Linked DNA regions of Homo sapiens. The protein of the gene in region 2 interacts with the protein of the main gene of each other region in a biochemical or structural test. Each region holds a gene or a part of one and is shown on either strand. Other genes may lie near its edges.

Region 1 (7,000 bases), on a different chromosome or scaffold from region 2:
CAGAAGTTCGAGGCTGCAGTGAGCAGTGTTCATGCCACTGCATTCCAGCTTGGGTGAGTGAGGCCCTGTCTCAACACAAGGACATGTGTAAAATGTCCTCAGGAGTTGATGAAATAATCCAGCCGGGTGTGGCGGCTCACGCCTGTAATCCAGCACTTTGGGAGGCCAAGGTGGGGAGGATCACTGAGCCCAGGAGTTTGAGACCAGCCTGGGCAACATAGCGAGGCCTCAACTCTATTTAAAAAAAGAAAAGAAAAGAATCCATCACAAGTACTTGTCTGTGTGCCCGGCACATGGTAAGTACACAAAGATGGTAGCAATTAGTGTTATCATCATCTGCATCCGTGTCAGTAGCCCACTGGGAAGGCCTGGGTCTCATGTTCTTTTGTCACTGCCTCCACTGAGCTGCCTGCACGAGCCTCTGGAAATTATGAAAGAAGGAATTTTTTTTTTTTTTTTTCCTGAGACGGAGTCTCGCTGTCGCCCAGGCTGGAGTGCAGCGGCGCAATCTCGGCTTACTGCAACTTCGCCTCCTGGGTTCACGCCACTCTCCTGCCTCAGCCTCCCGAGTAGCTGGGACTACAGGCGCCCACCACCACGCCCGGCTAATTTTTTGTATTTTTAGTAGAGAAGGGGTTTCACCATGTTAGCCAGAATGGTCTCGATCTCCTGACCTCGTGATCCAACCACCTTGGCCACTCAAAGTGCTAGGATTACAGGCGTGAGCCACCGTGCCCGACCGAAGAAGGAATTTTTTCTTTTCTTTTTCTTTTTTTTGAGACTGTCGCCCAGACTGGAGTGTAGTGGTACAATCTCGGCTCACCACAACCACCACCTCCCAGGCTCAAGCGATTCTCCTGTCTCAGCCTCCTGAGTAGCTGGGATTACAGTCGCGTGCCACTACCACCCAGCTGATTTTTGTATTTTTAGTGGAGATGGGGTTTCACCATGTTGGCCAGGCTGGTCTTGAACTCCTGACCTCAAATGATCCACTGGCCTCAGCCTGCCAGTGCTGGGATTACAGGTGTGAGCCCCCATGCCCGGCCAGAAGGAGTTTTCAGGTCGAGCTTTTCTAATTTCATGAATGTGGCAATGGAGGCCCAGAGAACGGGCAGGGGGGACTGATACCTCCAGCCGCCCTTCCAGGGTTTTCCAGACACTCTGATCTTCACAATAACCCTATGAGGAAGAGGAGGGTCTACATACACTTCACAGCGGGGACAGGAGAGCCCAGAGAGGCAAAGTGACTCAGCCCAGATCAGGCCTGATCAGCGTCTGGACCCGCAGGCCTGGCTCCTGAGTGCAGGCGGTGCTGGCATCATGACATGGAGCCCAGTGGAGGACGATGGCAGGACACGGAAGGTGCCAGACAGGGACAAAATGAGGCCTGGAGCAGGTGGAGTTCTGGAAGTAAAGCCTCCCACACACCACTTCACTGTCATCCCCTGTCCTGGGGGAAGGAATCCCACCCCCATCTTAACAGATGCAGACACTCAATCTCAGAGAACTAATTGCGTGCCCAAGAGAGGCTGAAGAGAAGTGTGGACCTGGGTCAGCCGGCTTCCCCACGGTGAGGAAGGCCGACGTGGAGAGGCAGGAGGCTGGGCCGGGCCTGAGAGGATATGAGTCTGGAGGTCTCCCGGGTGAACCACAGTGGGTGAGAAATTCTGGAACTGCACCGAGGTCTTGTTGCCATAGAAGAGATACATGCGGCCTGCAGTAGGTGGGGGAGGCAGAGCTCCATCTGAGTCCCTCTGACCCCTTCCCCAAGGTCTCCCTCCGACCCATTCCCACAGTCCCCCGGGACACACCCAGGTTCTGTCGGAACTCTGACTTGACTCCGATCTGCAGCAGCTGGTTCTCGAACAGGACCCCGTTGTTCTTACACACAAACCTGAGGGGGCAGGGGGCGCAAGATGACGGGGGTGCCTGTCTGCACCTGGCCTGGGCTCCGCACCTGTCCCGTTCCCCTCCCCCACCACTCCCAGGACTCACTTATTCAGCAACTCATCGGCTTCCGGAATGGGAGGGCCGATGTCCTCAGGACCTGGGCTGGAGGCATGGAGCAGAGTGAGATGGGAAGGAACTTGGTGGGGAGGGGCAAAGGCCCAGAGCGATTGAGTGCGAGAACAAGCCCTAAGGACAGAACCCCAGAACCACATATCCAGACCCCTCACAGAGCCTCGAGGAACCTCGCATCCATCCAGCAGTGGCCTCCAATGGGAATAGAACCCTGGCCCGTGCCCCCGCATCGGCAGACACCAAGTTTCCCTTTCCTCCAAGTCCCTGCCTCTGCTGCTCATCAGGAACCCGTTGACGAGGGCTCCCAGTCCCCTAACTCTCCCTGGGGACACCCGAGTCCGCCCCCCCGACCGACCTCCCACCCCAGGCCACCCCTTACTCAGCAGCTGGAGCTGGGTCAGCCAGCAAAGCCATGGGGCTCTCGGGGGCAGGCGGCTCCAGCTCGCTGAGCCATCCAATCCCAGAGCAGACAAGAGAAGACAGGCGTGGCAGGCAGCCAATTCCACATAGGCAGCGAGAGGGCAGAAGAGAGACAGAGAGGGAGGGACGGAAGAGGGAAGGAGAGAAGGAGAAAAGGAAGAGCAGGCTGAGAAACGGTGACAGGAAAGGAGACAACGAAGGGTGGCCAGGGTCGGCGGAGTCCAGAGTGGCAGAGGGAGGGCGTGAGCAGGGAGGCTGGGGCAGGGGAGGCAGCAGCCAGGGCTGGCGAAGGCATCAGGATGGAGAGAGGAGCGAGTCGGGGGCGGGGGAGGGGCTCAGGGAAAACGGGGACAGAGGCCGAGAAGGGACAGCCCTGGGGGTGGCCGCGAGAAGGGGCCCGGGCCCAGGGGGTGCTACCTGAGGAAGGCCTCCTCGGGGGTGGGCCCCAGGCTGGGCTGGGCGGCCGGGCCATCGAAGACGTCCACCAGAAGGTTCCCTGCTCCTGCAGAAGCCGGGGGTGCTGCCGGGGGAGGGGCTGCCCGCAGCCCCAGGAGGTCGGCGGAGGGCGAGGGCGTCGACTGTAGGAAGCGCAGGTCACGGTGAGGACAGGCGGCGCCCGGCAGGACCCAGCCCCAGGCACCCTGGCAGGGCCCACCCCAGGGGACTCACCACAGTGCTGGGGGTGGGCTCCATGCCCCCGTTGATGTCGTTGCTGCTGGGGTCCCTCCGGCCATCGTCCAGGGCGCTGCCGGCCCCTGGCCCCTTCTTGCGTTTCAGCTTGGCCAGGATGGACGACTCGCGCTCGGGGAAGGGCGGCATCTCCTCCAGCACCGTGGCCTGGCGCGGTCGGGGTGGGGAAGGTCAGTTCGGGTCAGGAGGAGGGGAGGGCGGGAAGGGGGTGTGCAAGAGGGGTGGGGTGGGGGGACAGGGCTCTGACCAGGACGTCGGTGCTGGCCACTGAGCTGAGGGTGAGGTACTCCACGGCTCGCTGCTGCAGCTCCACGTCAGCATTGCGCAGCTGGGAGCCGGCCCGCAGGACGCCCTGGATGGTGGCCTTGGTCTCGGGGAAGAGGTTGATGAACTTGATGTAGGTGGACAGCAGCAGCGCCCGCGTGGCCACGCTGCACAGATGGAACTTGGAGTGGAGCAGGGAGAACTGCACTGGGGGGCTGTGTGCAGGAGTGGGTGTCAGCGGGGCCAGGTTCCACTGCCCTCTCCCAGAAACCCCCTCGAGAGGTGCCCCTCCCTAGGATGGACCCGTCCCAGGACCCCAAGCTGCTGGAGGGGAGTGGCCCTCCCCAGGCACCAGACAGGGGCCGCAGTCACACTCTGTCCACGATCCTGGGACTAAGCTCCTTTCTTACCCTGCTAGGTGGATTGGGGTGGAGGCCGAGAGGATGGGAGCCCATCACTGCCTGCCCTGAGACCCCTGGGGATCCCCCAAGCCCTGGACCCCTCAGAAGCATGTGTGTTCTCCCCTGCAGGCTGAGGCTCCCTCACCTGGAGCGGGGGTCCCCAGCAATCAGGTTCCCAAACTCCCCAAGGATGTAGCCGCCAACCTTCACCATGTTCTCGTGACAGGCAGGGGCCTGGAGCGCCTGAGTGGGGTGGGGAAGGGCGTGGAGAGGACAACAATGAGCGCCCTCTCCGGGATCGGTGGGTGCAGCCACCTACTGACTGGTGGAACACTGAAAGCTCTGCTGCAGGTGGGGTTATAGGTGGGAAACTGAGTCACAGAAAGGTTGAGTGACGGGCCCAAGCTCACACAGGAAGTAAAACAGGGCTGTGGGCCGGAAGCAGTGGCTCATGCCTGTAATCCTGGTACTTTGGGAGGCCGAGGCGGGCAGATTGCCTGAGCTCAGGAGTTTCAAACCAGCCTGGGTAACATGGTGAAACCCCGTCTCTACTAAAAATACAAACAAATTAGCTGGGTGTGGTGGCGCGTGCCTGTAGTACCAGCTACTGGGGAGGCTGAGGCAGGAGAATGGCTTGACGCTGGGAGGCCGAGGTTGCAGTGAGCCGAGATCGCACCACGGCACTCACTCCCCACTCCAGCCTGGGCAACAGAGTGAGACTCCGTCTCCAGAAACAAACAAACAAACAAACAAAAAACAGGACTGTGTGGGGCCCCTTTCCTGGGGCAGAGGGAAACTACCGAGATCCGGGGGCCAGGACTGCACACTGGGTGCCCCATGCCCATGCCCTGGGGACTCCTCACATCAGGCCCATGAGACCATAGCCCTGGGTCCCCTGGGTTGGCCCAGAGAGGCAGAGGCCCCATTTTGAGGTCACGGCAGTGCAGGAGAAGGAGGGTGGCTGCGGGCTGGCAGGCGCCACGGCCCCGGCCATCCTTGCTCTGCCTCTAGGTCCTGTCGTGGGGTCATAGGGTCAGGGTCAGGGATGCTGACCTCAAAGACGGTCTTGGCGGCATAGCCCTGGACGTCATCACGGTTGGTGACGATCTGTAGCACACGGTACCACACCTCCTCACTCACGTAGTCGCCCGCAATGCGGATGAGGTTGAGGATGGTGTCCACGTACCAGCTGTAGTCCACGGCGTACTTCTCGGCCAGGATGGCCACCTTCAGGACCTGCCGCCGGGGCGTGTGAGAGAGAGTGTGCCGCAGGCCATGTCGGGCTTTCACTCACCTGGATCTGGGCTCACCACTGCCCCCATCTGGAGACCCAGGAGTCCAGGCCCCAGCCCCTCCTCCCTTAGACTTAGGAATCCAGGCCCCCAGCCACCTCCTGCCTCAGACCCAAGAGTCCAGCCCGCACCCCACAGCACTCACGATCTCCTCGCGGATGGCGTAGTCTGCCGTCTCCAGGTACCGCAGCATCTCCGACACGATCTGCTTGGCATTGCTCCGGTCACACATGGCGTAGAGGAGGTCAGCCGCCCGCTGCCGCACGCTGACGTCCCGCTCCGTCTGAGGGCGGAGAGCAGAGCCCAGGTGTGTTTTAGACTCCCTGTTGGCACAGGGTTGGCCACCCAAGGGCCTCTGAGCCTCTGGTCTTTCTGAGGGGGGTGGCAGGCCCGGGGTGGGCTCCAAGGGCTCACACCTTGAGGGCATTGATGACGGTGTCAATGTGCGTCTTGACGGCTTCATGGGAGAACTCGGAGCTGGCCAGCGTGCACATGCTCTCCAGGGCCAGGTAGCGCAGGTTGGTCTCCCGGTGCTGCAGGAACTGGCCCAGCTGGTTGCAGGCCCGAACCAGGAGGTTGGGCTCACTGCCAGCAGGGGCCACAAGAGAGGGATGGTGAGAGAAACTGACAGGAGAAGGTGGAGGACTCGGGCCCCAGCTGACCCATCTCACAGCCCCCAAGGATCCAGGTCTTAACCTTGCCGGCCTTGCATCGCAGTACTGCACCTCCAGTGACCCAGACAACTGGGCCTTTGAGCCCAGAGAAAGATACCTAGCAATTCTGCCCCCAGGAAGGGCCCCAGCACCAACCTCACAGGTGACACTTCACAGCCCCATCCTCCTCCTACCCTACCTAAAAGTCAAGATTCCCTGCCCTCTGCCTAGGACTCAGGAGTCCGGGCCTCCATGCCCCTCTTTCCTGGCCCCAGGCATCAGGCCCTGATAGGCCCAGGCGGGCACCTGTCATAGTGGATGATGAGGCTGATGGTCTCGAAGAGGATGGCGTTCTTGGCGTTGGAATGCTGCACCTTCTTGGATTTGGGGGGCTCCTGGGCCTTGTTGAGCACAGTCTCCAGACATTCCACCAGCCGCCCCTTCACAGCCGCATCCTCTGGGGAAACGAAGGGGACGCCCCCGGCTGAGTGTCCTGCCCACCTGGCACACCTGCTGGGGTGGTGGCCATGCCCCAGCTCCTGTCTTCCAAAGGAGGAGCTCGGGGTGCCTCTGACACTCGAGAATTCTGCAGCTCAGGGCCAGGGTCTCTGCTCCCTCAACCTCTTCCCAGCCCAGCAGAGATGGTGAGACAAGGCACCTCTGGAGACACAAGATCTATCCCCAGACCTGGGCTCTCCTCCTGCTCTGACCCTCTCGGGCAAGAGGTGGCACCATGTGAGCCTCAGTTTCCTCATCTGCAGCTCTGAGGCTCCTTAGGTTTCTCACAGAGCAAAGGAAGCTCCAGGAACCTTCCCCAGAGGTGCCCCCAAACCCAGGCCTTCCCAAGGACTGGTGTGAGTGCTGAGCAGCCCCTGACAAAAATGCACAAGCCACCCACCCAAGTGTCCATTCAGCAAGAGGCCACTGCAGGCACACTCGGTGCCATCCTCCTGGCCTAGAGGCTGGGAGGCCAAAGGAGACAAGGCTCAACCAGGTGCCCCCTCACCCCCCAGAGCTCTCCACCACTGACAGATGCCAGCCAGCAGCTCACAGGAGCACCAATCACCACGTTTCCTAGAATGTGACGTGTTTTCAAGTGTATGCAAGAGCTGTCAAGCGTTCCAGCAAAAAATGGTTCCGCAGATTTTTCTGCAGAATTTTCCGCAGGAAAATTCACCAGATAGAGGAACAAGCTAAAATACACCACAAGGCAGCAATGAGCCCAGTCGCCACCATGGGACACACAGCAATGGCATCT
Region 2 (8,425 bases):
GAAGAGAACACATTGATATTTTCCAAGCACAGCTTCTGAATACAATAGGCATTTTTAAAGTGTGAAGATTTTAAGTGAACACTGTACAGCACAATACAAACCTTGGTATCACTCCAAAATGAAGGCCAAATTAATTTTAAAAGTCAAATGACTTAAGAAGGTTTGTTAGCTCTTAAATATTAATATGTTAAGTATTACTGTAAAGCTTATAGTAGGAAAGATAATGACATTCCAAGAGATTAGACATCCATTTATGTTAGCTTTACAGAAAGAGTCAATATTCCAACATTTTTTTTCTGAATTGCTCACATAGTCTAAATCTAATGAAAATAGAATAGCTTAGACAATATTTTAATATTCTTTCTCCTTAGAATGCACATTAATGCCAAAATAAATGTTTTAGGGCCTTTTGGTAAAAACAAACCATTATTTGGCATAAAAGACGGCTGCTGGAGGTTTTGGAAATATTATTATTCTTAGGTTTCCTAACCTTGGAGTAAAGTGTAGCAATAATTCTAAAAACTATAAGTAATACACAGTTTGTAGCTGAACATTTGACTTGCTATTATGAGTAATCATAATTAAAGAAACATTTAGAATTTATACAAGATTAGTAAGTCAGGTAACGTCACCAAAAAACACAAGCAGCTGAAAAATGCTTCCCATACAAAAACAAACATTCGCCCCACCCAACCCCCACAATATTTTAATTCAGAATTCATCAGTATAAGAATTCCACTTGTAGTAAAAAATATATGCAATGGAAATTAATACTGTACCAAGGTATAGTTTAAATACAAAAAACAACTTGAAGCAATTAAGTCCATACTGATTGAGTATAGCCAATATTATTTATACTTATTTCTTGGAAGACCTAGAGCCCCTTCTCCTTCATTCAAAAAATATATGTACCAAATATATATTTCTTATATACTGTTCTTTGCTTAAGACTTTTCATTATGTCACTATCTTTTTCCCCATCAAGATGCAATTATACTATTTAGTCAAGTTAACACTTTAACTGACATTAATATTCTACATGCAAAGAGTGAGGTCTTATGCTCTTCATTTATTGAGGCTGGAGAAAGCTTAGTAGTTTAAGATATTTAAGGGCTTATATTTGTAAGTATGCCTTTCAAACACTATTTTTAATTTATAAAGATATAATCAGTAACTAAACTAATCCCAACACTAGGATTATTTGCCTAAATCATATATATGTGTATATATAATCATATACTTTTTTTTCTTTTTAATTTTTGAAACAGGGTCTCACTGTGTTGCCCAAGCTGGAGCGCAGTGGCGAGATCAAGGCTCACTGCAGTCTCGACCTTCCAGACTCAATCAATCCGCCCACCTCAGCCTCCCAAGTAGCGGGGACTAAAGGGCACACGACGGAGCCGAACTACTTTTTGTATTTTTTGTACAGAAAGGGTTTCACCACGCTGCCCAGACTGGTCTCAAACTCCCCGCCTCAAGCGATCAGCCCCCCTTGGCCTCCCAAAGTGCTGGGACTACAGGCGTGAGCCCCCACACCTGGCATATCTTACATTAAGAAAGACCCAGTATCCAAATTAATTTTAATTTCATCCATCTGCCCCTAAAATAACTCAAACATTACTAATCTATTTTTCTTGTGGTACAATAGTCCTTTTCTTTAAATTAGACTATCAAAATACTTTTAAAAATAATACAAAATCAATCATGTATCTCACATGAAAATCTAGAGGTTGTTTACAATTCCCTTAATGAAAACACAACGGCCATAACAGAAATACTCCAACAATATTGGATAATATTAGATAATACCTACTACTATAACTGACCTACCAGTAAATATGTCAAGCAAGACACTGTATGGGTTTATGTGATACATGATACAAACTGAAACAATATTTCTTTGGAAAAAACATTTACTTTTAGAAGCAGCAGCAGAACCCAAGAAAGCAAAATCCTGCAACCAAAACCTGCATCTCCCTGCACCCCCTCAACAAAAACCTGTTAACAAAAAGTTTGCAGGAAAATAAGTTTGATTAAAAGGAAATACAAGCATAATCTGCTAGAGGAAATACAGTGAAAGGGTTGTCGGGCTCTTTTCTAAAAAATGGTTGCATCTGAATTGTTTCAAATCAAAACAGAGACCATGACAAATTGGGCTCTAACAGATGACTTACAGAGCACAGCGACAGCCCCAGACTCGAACATGAGACATTCTTCCTTATGCCTAGTTTCCACTATGAGGCTGAAAGGTGGGGGATCCAATTTGTGATAGATCCGGAATCCTTTACTGAACGCCATTCTCCTTTCTTCGGAGGCAGCCCTGCGAAAACCAAGCAAAGCAAAGCAAATGAAGCTGATGTTTCCTTCTGCAGCAAGGACTGCAAAGCATCCAAAAGTCCCTCCCCGCCAGGTTTTGATGGGGGGTTGGGGTGGGAAAAAACAGACAGCTCTGGGAGAAAATGGCTTTTTCCAAAAGATAAGTCGTCACTTAATTTTACCAAAAAGCAAGAGGAAAAGCTATCAATTCTCATACCAAGGCAAGACAAGGTTTTAGCACTGTAAGTCAATCAACGGTCTGGTTGAGTTTCCCGTTTAATTTATGCTTACTGAAAGGAAAAATTTTGAGCGTATTTCGTCCGGAGCTGTTTATCAGCTTCCTGCTTCAAGATCTGTCACTACGTTGAAAGGGAACCTATTTGGAAACTTCAAGCAGTTCCTTCGAGGTGAAAGGAGCGGAGGTGGGAGGGAAGGGTGACAAGGCTGGTTCAAAGCTCCTTAGGGGGCAGGAGAAGGAAAAGGATTATCCCACGCGACAGGCTCTCCCGGGGGTGGCGATGAAGGGCAAGGGAAAAGGCACAGGTTACCGCCGCCTCTCCTGCCCCGGGCTACCGCCGGCTGGGGGGACGGCAGGCGGGGCCGATAAATACGAATGGCCACCCGGGAAGAGTCACGACTCGGGGCACCGACCCGACTGGGGCTCCTCGGGGGTCCCGGGCAGTCGACTGCCCGGGAAAGCGGCTCCTTCTCGGAGAGACGGAAGAGCCGAGCAGCCCAAACCCTCCATTTATGCGCCAGAAGAGATACCCCGGCGCCCAGGCGGATTCGGTTCGTTCCCGCGGGCGGGCTGACAGCCGCTGTCACCACAGCCCCCAGCCTGACGCGGCACCCCGCACAACCAGTGGTCTGCTCACAACCCCGCCCGTCCTCCCGCACCCCGGCTGCTCGCGGTCGCCCCTCACCGCTCCCGCTGACGCTGCGGAGGCAGAGACTGGTCTTGGAGGCGTCCGCCCGCCCGGCTGCCCGTGGGTCTGGCCGCAGCAGCTCCCCGCCCCCCGCCGGCTTGCTCACCTCTTCCTCCGGCTCCTCCTCCTCCTTCTCCCGCAGCCGCCGCCACAGCCGCCGGGAGCGTCACTTCCGCTCCAGCAGGCCCATCTCTTCCGCATTGCGCCGCGGCCGGGGGCGGAAGATCCGCCCCGCGCGAGGGAAGGGGCGGGGCATCAGGAGGGAGACCACGCCCACTCTGCGCCGACCGGCTGGGCCTGGCACCCGCGGGCGGCCCCAGCCTCAGTCTCCAGCTACCTTTGCCTCCTGCGGCCGCCCCCAGGCAGAGCTGCGATCCCACCGCCGGGGGTGCAGGGAGAGGGAAGATCTGGCCTCCTTGGTCCTTTTGCGTGGGCTCTTCAGAGCGTGAGCGCCGGGGAGGGACTCCGGAGAAAAGCTTGGGGGGCTGCGTATTGCTGCTCCCCAAGCTGGGCGTCAGGACCAACCCCGCCGCCCCCACGGGCCTGACGGGAGAGGAGGAAGGGCTCGGGACGGTCGGCTCGCCGAGCCAACCAGGTGGCGCCTGAAGAGCTGTCCATGGTGTCGACAGCCCAGCAAACGGCACCGAGTTCCTAGTCTGAGTGTCTGGATAGGTAGCAGAAGAAAAACTAATGCCTGCTCTGGGACAGTTCTGTTCGGTGCCTTTTCTTGTGTGTTCTGGAGCTCACAGGGTTCTATCGAAGAGTGCTTAGGTGTATACGATGGAGAGTGGGACGTCACAAACCAGGATCTCAAGGCTGAGTCCAACAAAACATGGCCGTAGGGAGGCCACGACAGCTGTGGTTGTCACCGACGGATGAATAGCTTTTGCCAACCGTGGAATTTAGTAACTAAAGGCACCTAACCCTTTTATCTCATCCTCATTTTTCAACAAATGGTGCTTCCTGGCTAATATCAGCGTGTCCCATAGATTTCTGCTTCCATTGAATAGACCTAATAAGAAAGAGAATGAAGTCAAAGCCAACAGGGCAGAAAGAAATTGAAAACCTGAAGAACCCAGCACTCAAACTGTCTCCACTTGCGTTTGCTTTTTCTTTACCTCTTCTCCTTCTGGTTTTCAACAGCCAAAGCAGGATTTAAATTTGGTTATGTTGCAAAAATCATTTCCCTCTTCAGGCCCTGTCATGTGACTTGATTTTTTCGTCCATTTTAGAGAAGCTGTACCCACCCTGGTTTCAGGACACGGAACTAAATTTATTAGAAAAGAAGCCACTTCAAGTCATGAAGGAGAAACACAAAGATTCTTGGATTTAGTTCTAAGAACTAGAGGGGATTTCTATGTCAGTACTGTCTCAGAAAAAACTGTTGATATCAAATGTGTTGCTTGAGAAGTACCTTTTTTTTTTTGAGACGGAGTCTCGCTCTGTCCGCCCAGGCTAGAGTGCAGTGGCGCGATCTCGGCTCACTGCAAGCTCCGCCTCCCGGGTTCACGCCGTTCTCCTGCCTCAGCCTCCCGAGTAGCTGGGATTACAGGTGCCCACCACCACGCCCGGCTAATTTTTGTATTTTTAGTAGAGACAGGGTTTCACCGTGTTAGCCAGGATGGTCTCGATCTCCTGACCTCGTGATCCACCCGCCTCGGCCTCCCAAAGTGCTGGGATAACAGGCGTGAGCCATCGCGCCCGGCCGAGAGGTACCTTTTATGACAACTGAAATCATTCAGTTTCAAGAGGAGTTGGGTACTGAAACCAAACTTGCTTACTCCAAAGCCCAAAATCCTTTCCACCATGCCTGTGTGTCTGTAAGGCTACACTAGAAATGCTTCCTTTCTTATAGTGGGAAGCATGGGTACTAAGCTCTTTTACGAACAAGTGTTCTGCATATTCCTGGTTCCTTTTTATTTTGGACTGAGGAGATTTAGGTCAAAATTTCTGGGTTCTGGGTTGGAATTCCAGCTTCTTTCTTCAAATTAAACTGGGGGGTAGCAAGACTTATTCCTAGATTTGTTAGAAGGCCACAGCTTTTCCACATCTCATTTTAGTCATGAAAAAGACACATGCCCAGAGTTTGAAAAACATAAAGGCAATTTGACTAGTGGCTTGATTGGTTCTATCTTCTTTTTCTTGTCCCTCTTTCCTATTTATACTTCTACTTTTGTTACAGCATTTGACAATAGTTGGAAAAATTTTCACTGACCTTGAAATGTCTTTGGGATAGGGTGACTTAAAATATAGGTTAAGTGGCATACACAAACTTCTTAGTGAGATCCTAAGGGCCTACAGAGACAGGCTGACACCAACTCAACCCTTGAAACTGTGCAATGAAGAGCCTGTGGGAGGCTAAAAAACGCTACTTCAAAAAGAGATCCTTGTCTGTGAATGTTAATTTAGGTTTACAGATTTGATTAAGGGTCTTGAGATTATTTTCAATTATCCAGGTGGGCCCTAGAGCCCTAGATGCAATCATAAGTGTCCTTATAACAGGGAGGCAGAGGAAAATTAAACACGCACACAGGAGAGAGAGAGAGAGAAAAAAAAGTGATGTGAAGACAGCAGCAGAGATTGGAGCGATGTGGCCATAGCCAAGCTATGTCAGCAGCCATCAGAAGTTGGAAGAGGCAAGGAAGGATTTGAGCCTAGAGCCTTTGGAAGGAGCATGGCCCTGTTGGTTCTGGCCTCCAGAACTGCAAGAAAATACATTTTTGTTGTTTTAAACCACCCAGTTCATGGTAATTTGTAACACCAGCTACAAGAAATTAACACAAGGCTGATGTGACTTTCCATCAGGAGAGAGACAGCCCCAGGTAGGTGTTTCAGATATCACATCCAATAGAACAAATTAAAGACAAACACCCTAAATTCTAGATGTTGATTTGTGAGCAAGTTATTTCTCCTATGGGCAACTCTAGTTGAAATATGCAATTCATTATGTTGAAACATGGAATTGTTATTTTCATAGGTTAAAAAAAAATCACATAGTGGCAATATAGTAGTAGTGCTCGTTTTTTGTTTTTTGTTTTTTTGTCAAAAATGCTAGACAACATGGAAGATCAGGGAAATATTAACAGTCTGATTCAGTAACCTTTAACAGCTTCTTTTCAGGTTACACAGGCTAAGCTAACTTTTATATCAGGATCAGGATCTGCAGAGTTATTAGTATAGTGCTCTGCAGATCCTGGTCCTAGTATAGCAGGATCTGCAGACCCTAGTTGTACCTGGCCATGTTCCCCACCAATGACTGAGAAAGAAATGGCTCGAACAGAAAACAGTGGTCTTGAAAGGCAACGCAACAGTAGGTTACAAATAGCATTAGCTTTTTCTTTAAAGAAATTCATTGTAACCAGTGAAGGATAAGATTTTAAATTAGAAAAATGGAAATCCTATGAATAAAAAACTAGTAAGCTTGAGAGCAGAATCACTGTGGAAAAAAAACAGATTGAAAAATAACTTGCAGGTATCATAGACAGGAAATTGCCACTAGAGAAAACAGGAAACTTGTGATAGATAAAAATGAAGTATTTTCATTTGGAACAAGAGACCAACTGAAGAGAGATCAAGTGAAGGGGGTTTATTTTAATGAAACACAAAGATTCTTGTGGAAATCAAAGTGCCGGAGCCAGAAACAGGGCTCAACCTTCAAGATTAGAGCTGTATTCAAGTTGTTCAAGTTGGCTCTCGGTCCCAAAGCAACAGCAATGTCACTAAGGTTACAAGTAAAAGGTAAGCTTTCATGATCAAAATGTTTTTGCAAAGTAGCTTAAAATGGTTTCTGCAGTGTTTTGTCAAAACTTTTCTCATACATTTTCCTAAAGATATTTAGCAAGAGCCTAAGAAGTCATGTGCTAGGGATTTTCATTGTACTGAATGATTGTATCCTTTAAGCCGCTGCTGGAGTTAGGACTGACAGGAACGCAGTACAAATTACTGGGGGCTAGAGTCCCAAAGCAGGCCAGGGACCAGTCTACATTGCATGTCGATACCAATCCCATATAACAATATTCAGCCTGTGTTTGGGCAGTCTGAGGCAGCTTTTAGCAGCTGTGAACCCAGTATCCATGGACAGTTTCATTTCTGGAGGGCAGTCTTCAAAACGTTTATGAAAGTACACCTCCCATTCAGATATGTTTTTTTCTTCCTACATGTAGTGCTAGTGTTTTTCTCATTTTCATTTACTTGAAACAACAGATCAAATGTTTTGTCATAATCAGTGAATGGCAAGACTCCCTTTATTACATGGGTATTACCATGTTAGAGATAAGAAGAGCTCTTGTAACCATTAACAACCACTACAATGTAGCAACTTACAGTTTCCTATTTTATATTGCAGCTCTGTAACATTTGACTACTTTTGTAAGAGTTTCATGATTTCAAGGATGATTATTAGCATTTTCAATTTTTTGGCCAATTCTGGGTGCTGGTAATGTTACCACTGCAGGCAACTATGGCTCTACTCAACTGAAGACCTCTTATAGGCAATGTGGACCATACCTGCTTTCCTGAGAGATCAGCAAATTGGGTTTGGTCATCAGGAAATTCTGTCTCTCAGATCTCATACTAGCAAGGAGACCCCTGGTTGTACCTGTCAGAGCTGCCAGTTGGCCCTGCTGAAACTTTAGAACTGCACCAATGTCTAAGACTTTCATCCTCCTTCCTTCACACAGGTGAGACCTGCCTGCCTCATTGTCTGACAGCTTTCCCAGCCTCCTCCAGGCTCCCCTCCGTTTTCTCTTATACGCATTCCCCCAATAAACTTCCTGTACATTTAATACCATCTCAGTGTCTGCTCCCAGGAGGACCCTAACTGACACACTGGGGCATTTAGCCTCCAATTCCTTTTCTCCCTTGGCTGAGATCTGTTCCAGGAAGTATCTCCAGGACACTCCAGCCTGTTGCACAGGCCAAAGAAAAGCCCTCAGGCAGAGGAGCAAATACTTGCAAGAGGACACCAGTGGCAAGAACAGGGACATGGTGAGACTTCGACATCATTGGCTACAGTAGTACTAGTCACTCTTGACTGTGGTTTATGTTGTTTCAATAAAGTAGCTTTCCTTCTCAAAAACATTTGTCACCTATTTTGGAGTTAATTCAGAGGATTGCTCCAAAAGAAAAAACTGAAAAGCAAAACCAGCTTTATTAAAATGTAACCCTCTGGATTTATCTTTTGA
Region 3 (7,000 bases), on a different chromosome or scaffold from region 2:
TGAATGGCCTGGTGCCTAGTTCAGCACACAGCACACCACACGCAATACATATTCATTTAACATTCAAAAGGATGAATGCTTGAGAGTAAAACTACAAACCAGCAGCCACTAAGACGATTTGTCCGCTAATCAGAGGATCCTGAGTAAGAATTTGAGCTTAAATCTAACCCCTTCCTGGCTGTGCAACCTCAAGCAAGTCATTTCAGCCCTAAGAACCTCAGCTTCCTCCTCTAGGAAATGGGAATAATTATCATTAATAAATACCATCCCCACAGGCTTGTGGCAAGGCTCAAAGCAGAAATGGATATGGAAGTAGAGGGGGTACTGCCAGTGTCCTTCTATCAGGTGGGGTACCCATCTCTCAGCAGCTGTGGGTGCTGGCTGCTAGCAGCTCACAGCTGCCCCCTTCCCCTGAGAGCTGCCCTTGGCTTACAGGAGCTGCCTCATCTGGAGATGCAGGGGGAGGCTAGGCCCTTCCCCGGGAGCAGCTTGCAGACAATGACCACCAGCTAAGGGGCTACAAAGGCCTGGCCCCTTGTCTGGAGGAAGGTAACCCTGGGAGACTGGCTGTTCATAATCTAGAGCTCTCCGTGGGATCCTAGCTGTAAGCAAATCTTTTCCCGCTCTAATATGAGCATGCCTGCAATAAATCATTTGCCCGGGAATCCTTGTCTCAGCTCTGCTTCTAGAAGACCAGACTTGAGACAGGAAGTATTTTGTAAACAATGACACACTAGGCACAAATATGTGTTTTTTTAATTTTTTTTTTAATTTTAGGAAACATTGAAAGTAGAGGAGCTAGCAATGTGAGAGGAGGAGGCGGTCAGCTCTGTGGGCAGGGGTGAGGGGTAGGGGAAGCCCAGTCATGCTGCTCTGCCCCCACCCAAACCCTGCCTTCATGGAATGCTTGGGCAGGTAAGGGGGACAGACAAGAAACCAACAAGAGCATAATGTCAGGGATAAGTGCTATGAAGATGATAAAGTAGAATCAGGAGATGGGGGACAACGAGGGCTGTTTTTGATAAGGTGGTCTGGGAGGCCTCTCTGAGGGGGTGATGTGGGTGGAGATGTGAACATCATGAGCCATGTAGGCCTTTGGGGAAGAGAATTCCAGGCATAGGGAATAGGAGTGCAAAGGCCCTGGGGCAGGGTGTTTGATGGGTCCAAGAAATGACCTGGGGATCAGTGAGGCTAGGATGTATGAGAGAAGGTCTGAGGTATTGGGCAGCCGGATCACATGGGGTCTTGCAGGCAATTATAGGGCTTTTTTTTTTTTTTTTTTTTTCTGAGACAGAGTCTTGCTCTGTCACCCAGGCTGGATGCAGTGGTATGATCTCAGCTCACTGCAACCTCTGCCTCCCAGGTTTGAGGGATTCTCCTGCCTCAGGCTCCTGAGTAGCTGGGACTACAGGTGTGTGCCATCACACCTGGCTAATTTTTGTAATTTTAGTACAGATGGGGTTTCACCATGTTGGCCAGGCTGGTCTGAAACCCCTGACCTCAGGTGATCCACCTGCCTCGGCCTCCCAAAGTGCTGGGATTACAGGTGTGAGCCACTGCATCTAGCCTGTTATAGGATTCTGGGCTTTATTCTGAATGGGAGGGGAGTCATTGAAGAGCTTTAGCAGAGGAAGGATGTGATCTGATTTAAGTTTTAAAGGACCTTTGGCTGGTGAGGCAAGGACGGGGCAGGAAGACCAGGTAGAGGCTGCTGCAAAGATCTAGGAGAGGATAGTGGAGGCTCAGAAGGGAAGGCAGCAATGGAGGTGACAAGAAGTGGGTGGATTCTGGGTGTTTTGAATGTAGAATTGAAGGACTTGTTGATGACTAAATGAGGTGTCAGGGACAGACAAATGCAACTCCCAATTTACAGAGAGGACAGAAGAACATACTAAATAACACCACAGGGATGCAATCAACAAAATCCAGTCTGCAGGAAACACAGCAGGACAAACCACCTGCTTCCTCCCATAGATAAACTGCAAAAGAATAAGAAAAGATGGAGAGGAGAACTGTGGATTGAAAGAGACTAAGACATATCAACCAATCATAACGTGTGAACTTTACCTGGAACTTGATTTAAACAATTTAAAAAACAAAAAGACATGTCTGAGACAACAGGGAATGTGAATACTAAGTGAATATTTGACTATATAAAGGAATTAATACTTCTTAGGTATAATAATGGTATTGTGATTGTGTTAGAAAAAGTCCTTATCTTTTAGAGAAATATCTTGATTGAGATGAGATTGGACATGTGTTGGTATCTGTTGATGCTAAGCCATGAGTATATGACTGTTATATAACATTTTCTCTACTTCTGTAAATGCTTATAATATTTCACAATAAAAAGTTTGCAAATAAAAGACAGAAGAGGAAACAGAATCCAAGGGAGGGGGTTGAGTGGCCCTAGGCCCCTCAGTGAGTCAGTGTCAGGGCCAGGACCTCAGCCTGGACCCCCAACCCCCAGCCCTCCAGCCCTGCCTCGGCTGCCCCTCTTGTCCTCAGTGGCTGGTCAAGGCTAGACCCCGGGAACCCAGTGATGAAATGTGTGACCTCAGGGAAGGCCCAGATTAGGCAGAGTGGGGCTAAGGGATGCAGGGTCTTTGCCAGGCCCTGCAAGGAGAAGCAGCCCTGGGCCACCTGTCCCACAAGGTCCAATGAGGCTGATCATTTAAAGTGCCCTGCAGCAGCAATCCAAGCTGGCTGCCCCACCAGCCTCACGACCCATGTCCTCTCTCGTGTTCCTATGCTGATTTCCTCCCCAGCCCCTGAGACCACCACTCACATTCCAGCCTTTGCATCTTTGTCCCTGCTGTCACTCTGCCTGGAATGTACCCCCCCGCCCCCCGCCCCGTCTCTGGATCTGACCAGCCTTTCCTTCCAGGTCTGCCTTCTGCAGAAGACAACCCTCCTTCAGTCTTCCAGAACACACCTGCCTCCAGTCTCTGAGACAAGAGATTATCCCCATTCCTCGACGACAGGTGCTGAGGCAGAGAGGCTCACAAGCACAGCTTCTGGAGCCAGACTGCATGGCTGTGAATCTGGCTCAGCCACTTACTGTGTGACCTCAGGCAAGTCACTTAACTTCAGTTGCCCCATCTGTAAAATGGGGATAACCCCATGAGCTTACTAAGAGGACTAAATGAGTTATAAATATGGATAAACAAAAGAGCGCCTGGCACATGTCAGGGATCCCCGGCCCCTCCTTTGTGCCCCTACAAGACTCCCCAGTGCTACACAACCACCACTTTGCCAGATACCCCACTTCTGCCATACTCCTTCTACAGCCCTCCTGATACCCAGATGTTACCTTACCTTACCCCCTTTCCCATCCCGCCAGGTTTCAGGCACCACAGGCCTGGGAGGAGGGAGAGGGAATATAAGCCCATGAGGGGACCAGTTAGGAACCAACCACAGATAAAAACTCTCCAAACACACGTGGCAGCATGTGACTCACATGCCATCAGATTAAGGGGAATGGAGTTTACGTGCTCATTTTTTTAGGTTTCTAAGAAAAAAATTCCCAGTATCATCAAGTGCAGTTTTAATTGTTTTCTTCATGAGTAATGATATTTGTTTATAAAATGCAAACAGCACAGAATGGCTGAAATAAAGAGGACGCATTCTCCCTCCAGATCCCTGCGATAGGCCTCAGCCCAGAGGCAAGCTCTAATCACAATCAGGTATGCAGCCTTCTACACATTGTTATGTAAATATGAACAGAGAAGAACATATGTACATGTACTTTAAAAATTGTATCATACTACACACATTGTTCTTTTTTTTTTTTTTTTTTTTTTTGAGACAGAGTCTGGCTCTGTCTCCCAGGCTGGAGTGCAGTGGCCCGATCTCGGCTCACTTCAACCTCCGCCTCCTGGGCTCAAGCGATTCTCCTGCCTCAGCCTCCTGAGTAGCTGGGACTACAGGCGTCCTTCACCACACCCAGGTAATTTTTGTATTTTTAGTAGAGACAGGGGTTTCACCATATTGGCCAGGTTGGTCTCGAACTCCTGACCTTGACTACACACATTGTTCTACAAAGCCACTTGCTTTAACTTATCAGTACGTGATGACCATCTTTCCACACTGGTAATAAGCTCCGCCCCATCTTGTCTCAGTGTCCCCAAGCACCTAAAGTGGTGCCTGGCAGGCAGCGACATTCAGAGATCCATTGATTAAATCCCAGAACGAACAACTGCCCGAAATCACAGCGTACAAAGAGGTCTTGACTTTGTCACTGGTCCTCCTGACAGACATCTAGCTTTGCTACACTGACTGTCTCTGCCCAGCTAATCTTTGCACCCTGCTCAGAGTGTACCTGTGGAATAAGTCCCAAAAAGTGGAATTGCCAAGTCAAAACTGTGACCACTGTTGCCAAAAACACAGTGCTAACGTATGCTCCCCGACTGACGTGAGAGTTCTAGTTTCCCACGCCCTCCGCCAAATGAGAGCTTTCTTAGGAGGACTTTTATTTCTCAAATGGATTACCCCTATTTAGTGATTCCACCCTTGATCACCACATCTCCCTTTGTCCCACCTGCATAAATGAGAAAACTATTGTTTTATTATTTCTCAGCAGCACTAAGGAGCCAAAATCCACAAATAAGGGACTACTCTCTAGCCAGTATAGAAAGTTAACAGATGGGAAATTTGGAACATCTCACCTGTTTCTAAAAATGGATGTGTTAATGTTTTAAAACTGTCAACTTCAAACAAGTATCTATTGATTCTTCCCCCACACTCAAGAACAGAAAATTCTCACCCTCTCTCTCCACTCCTCCCTACCCCAGCCTACAGTGGCCACATTTAGTCAATAAAAATTCAGGGCCAGGCGCGGTGGCTCATGCCTGTAATCCCAGCACTTTGGGAGGCTGAGGCGGGCAGATCACTTGAGGTCAGGAGTTTGAGACCAGCCTGGCCAACATGGCGAAACCCCATCTCTACTAAAAATACAGAAAAATTAGCTGGGTGTGGTGGCCGGCACCTGTAATCTCAGCTACTCAGGAGGCTGAGGCAGGAGAATCACTTGAACCTGGGAGGCGGAGGTTGCAGTGAGCCTAGATCGCAGCCTTGCACTCAAGCCTGGGCGACAAGAGCAAAACTCCATCTCAAAAATAAATAAATAAAATAAAATAAAAATTCAGGACACCTAGTTAAATCTGAATTTCAGATAAATGACAAATACAGTTTTTTATTAAAAATATGTCCTATGCAATGTTTGGGACATACTTAGACTAAAAAACAACAAAAACACATTTGTTGTTTTTCTGAAATTTAAAATTACCTGAGTATGCTGCATTTTATATAGAAAGACTACCCTAGCCCCTACCCAGCATTTTAATATCAAGTTATTTTTAGCCTGGGCAACACAGTAAGACCCCATCTCTACAATAAAATTGAAAAATTAGCCAGGCATGGTAGCACTCAGCTACTCAGGAGGCTGAATGGGAGGATCCCTTGGGCCCGGGAGGTCGAGGCTGCAGTGAGCTATGATGGTGTCACTCACTCCAGCCTGGGTGACAGAGCAAGACCCTGCCTCTAAAAAGAAAATAATTATAACAATATCGAGTGATTTTAAAATAATAGCCAAGGTAGGCCAGGTGCGGTGGCTCACACCTGTAATCCCAGCACTTTGGGAGGCCGAGGCGGGTGGATCACGAGGTCAGGAGTTCAAGACCAGCCTGGCCAAGATAGTGAAACCCTGTCTTTACTAAAAATACAAAAATTAGCCGGGCGTGGTGGTGGGCGCCTGTAATCCCAGCTACTCAGGAGGCTGAGGCAGAGAATTGCTTGAACCCGGAGGTGGAGGTTGCAATGAGCCAAGATCGCGCCACTGCACTCCAGCCTGGGTAACAGAGTGAGACTCCGTCTCAAAAATAATAATAATAATAATAATAGCCAAGGCCTCCCCTGCCCTCCCAGTTTTCAGGTATCCTGCAGCCCCTCACACCCAAGGTTGAGGTCTTCAGAGACAGCACCCAGGGGAGGGTGGAGGGGAGCCCCCGACCCCAGTCTCCAGCCCAGCCCTCCCCTCCAGGCCACCCTGCCCCTGGCTGGAAACCAGCCACAAAGTGTCCCCAGCAGGTGGGTCTGAAGTGGCTAATAGGTTTTCTTCATTTGGCTTTCCAGTACATTCTAAATTGCTCCCCACAGACACGCTCCTTTTCTGGAAACGGCACCAGCAACTTCCCTGGCATTAGAGGTCCTGTCTCCCCAGAGCCAGCTGAGGCCAGGCTCCGGTTGATCTTGTCCCTTCAGCCCACCTCTGGGTTCCTCCCAACCCATCTTTCCTGGTGGTGAACACTACCTGTTGCCCCAGGGGGTGGGTGCTGTCAGCAGGCGACCTCAGTGGGCAGATGCTTCAGGGACTGCTGCTACCACAGAGCCACCTGCAGGAAGGCACACCCAAACCCTGTGCCTGATGGGCGCAGGATGCTGGGGTCTAGGGCCTGACTCTCACAGGCAAATGGACATGACCTGAAAGGCCACTCTAGCCCCAGGGCACCCTGTTGCCTGTTGGGCTGCATCAGAGTCCACTTCCCCTTCATCCAATCCCACTTCCTTCCCTGCTTTCCACAGTGAAGCTCCGGGACCCCTCCTCTACCTGCCTGCCAATCCTCACGGCTACTTCCTGGGACCCTGACCTGCCCGCCAAGTCCCCAGCCCAGACCTCCCCTCCGGTCCATCCTGCCCCTGGCTGGAAATCAGTTACGAAGTGCCCATGGTGGGTGGGTCTGATGTGGCTAATGGGCTTCCTTCATTCGGCTTTCTAGTACATTCTAAATTGCCCACAGCAAACCTATATTACTTTGGTAATAAGAAAAAATAATAAAAGCTATTTTTCTTTAAGAAAAATGTAAAACCAAACCAAGCAGCATCCTTCTTATCTGGTATACCCACTCGTCCCCCAACCCCTCCACCTGGTTCCCCAGGGAGGGCCCCCCAAATCAGTGAATGCCCCCACCCCTCATGTCCTCTCCTGTCCCTTCTGTCCTTC

The links.
Region 1: the proteins of SYNJ1 (region 2) and AP2A1 form a complex in vitro, tested with the Homo sapiens proteins (one study listed by BioGRID).
Region 3: the proteins of SYNJ1 (region 2) and PACSIN1 form a complex in vitro, tested with the Homo sapiens proteins (one study listed by BioGRID).

What each region holds. Positions count from the first base shown.
Region 1 is NC_000019.10:49,798,001-49,805,000, reverse strand, and holds part of AP2A1 (AP-2 complex subunit alpha-1), read right to left. Parts: intron 6,200-7,000; coding exon 6,049-6,199; intron 5,675-6,048; coding exon 5,506-5,674; intron 5,397-5,505; exon of another isoform or gene 5,373-5,396; coding exon 5,235-5,372; exon of another isoform or gene 5,034-5,234; coding exon 4,851-5,033; intron 4,041-4,850; coding exon 3,943-4,040; intron 3,612-3,942; coding exon 3,380-3,611; intron 3,280-3,379; coding exon 3,112-3,279; intron 3,021-3,111; coding exon 2,860-3,020; intron 2,468-2,859; coding exon of another isoform or gene 2,402-2,467; intron 2,053-2,401; coding exon 1,996-2,052; intron 1,895-1,995; coding exon 1,812-1,894; intron 1,715-1,811; coding exon 1,625-1,714; intron 1-1,624.
Region 2 is NC_000021.9:32,724,598-32,733,022, forward strand, and holds the start of SYNJ1 (synaptojanin-1), read right to left. Parts: upstream 3,349-8,425; intron 3,343-3,348; exon of another isoform or gene 3,240-3,342; intron 2,321-3,239; coding exon of another isoform or gene 2,299-2,320; coding exon 2,175-2,298; intron 1-2,174. UniProt on the Homo sapiens protein: Phosphatase that acts on various phosphoinositides, including phosphatidylinositol 4-phosphate, phosphatidylinositol (4,5)-bisphosphate and phosphatidylinositol (3,4,5)-trisphosphate. Has a role in clathrin-mediated endocytosis.
Region 3 is NC_000006.12:34,469,076-34,476,075, reverse strand, and holds part of PACSIN1 (protein kinase C and casein kinase substrate in neurons protein 1), read right to left. Parts: intron 1-7,000. UniProt on the Homo sapiens protein: Plays a role in the reorganization of the microtubule cytoskeleton via its interaction with MAPT; this decreases microtubule stability and inhibits MAPT-induced microtubule polymerization.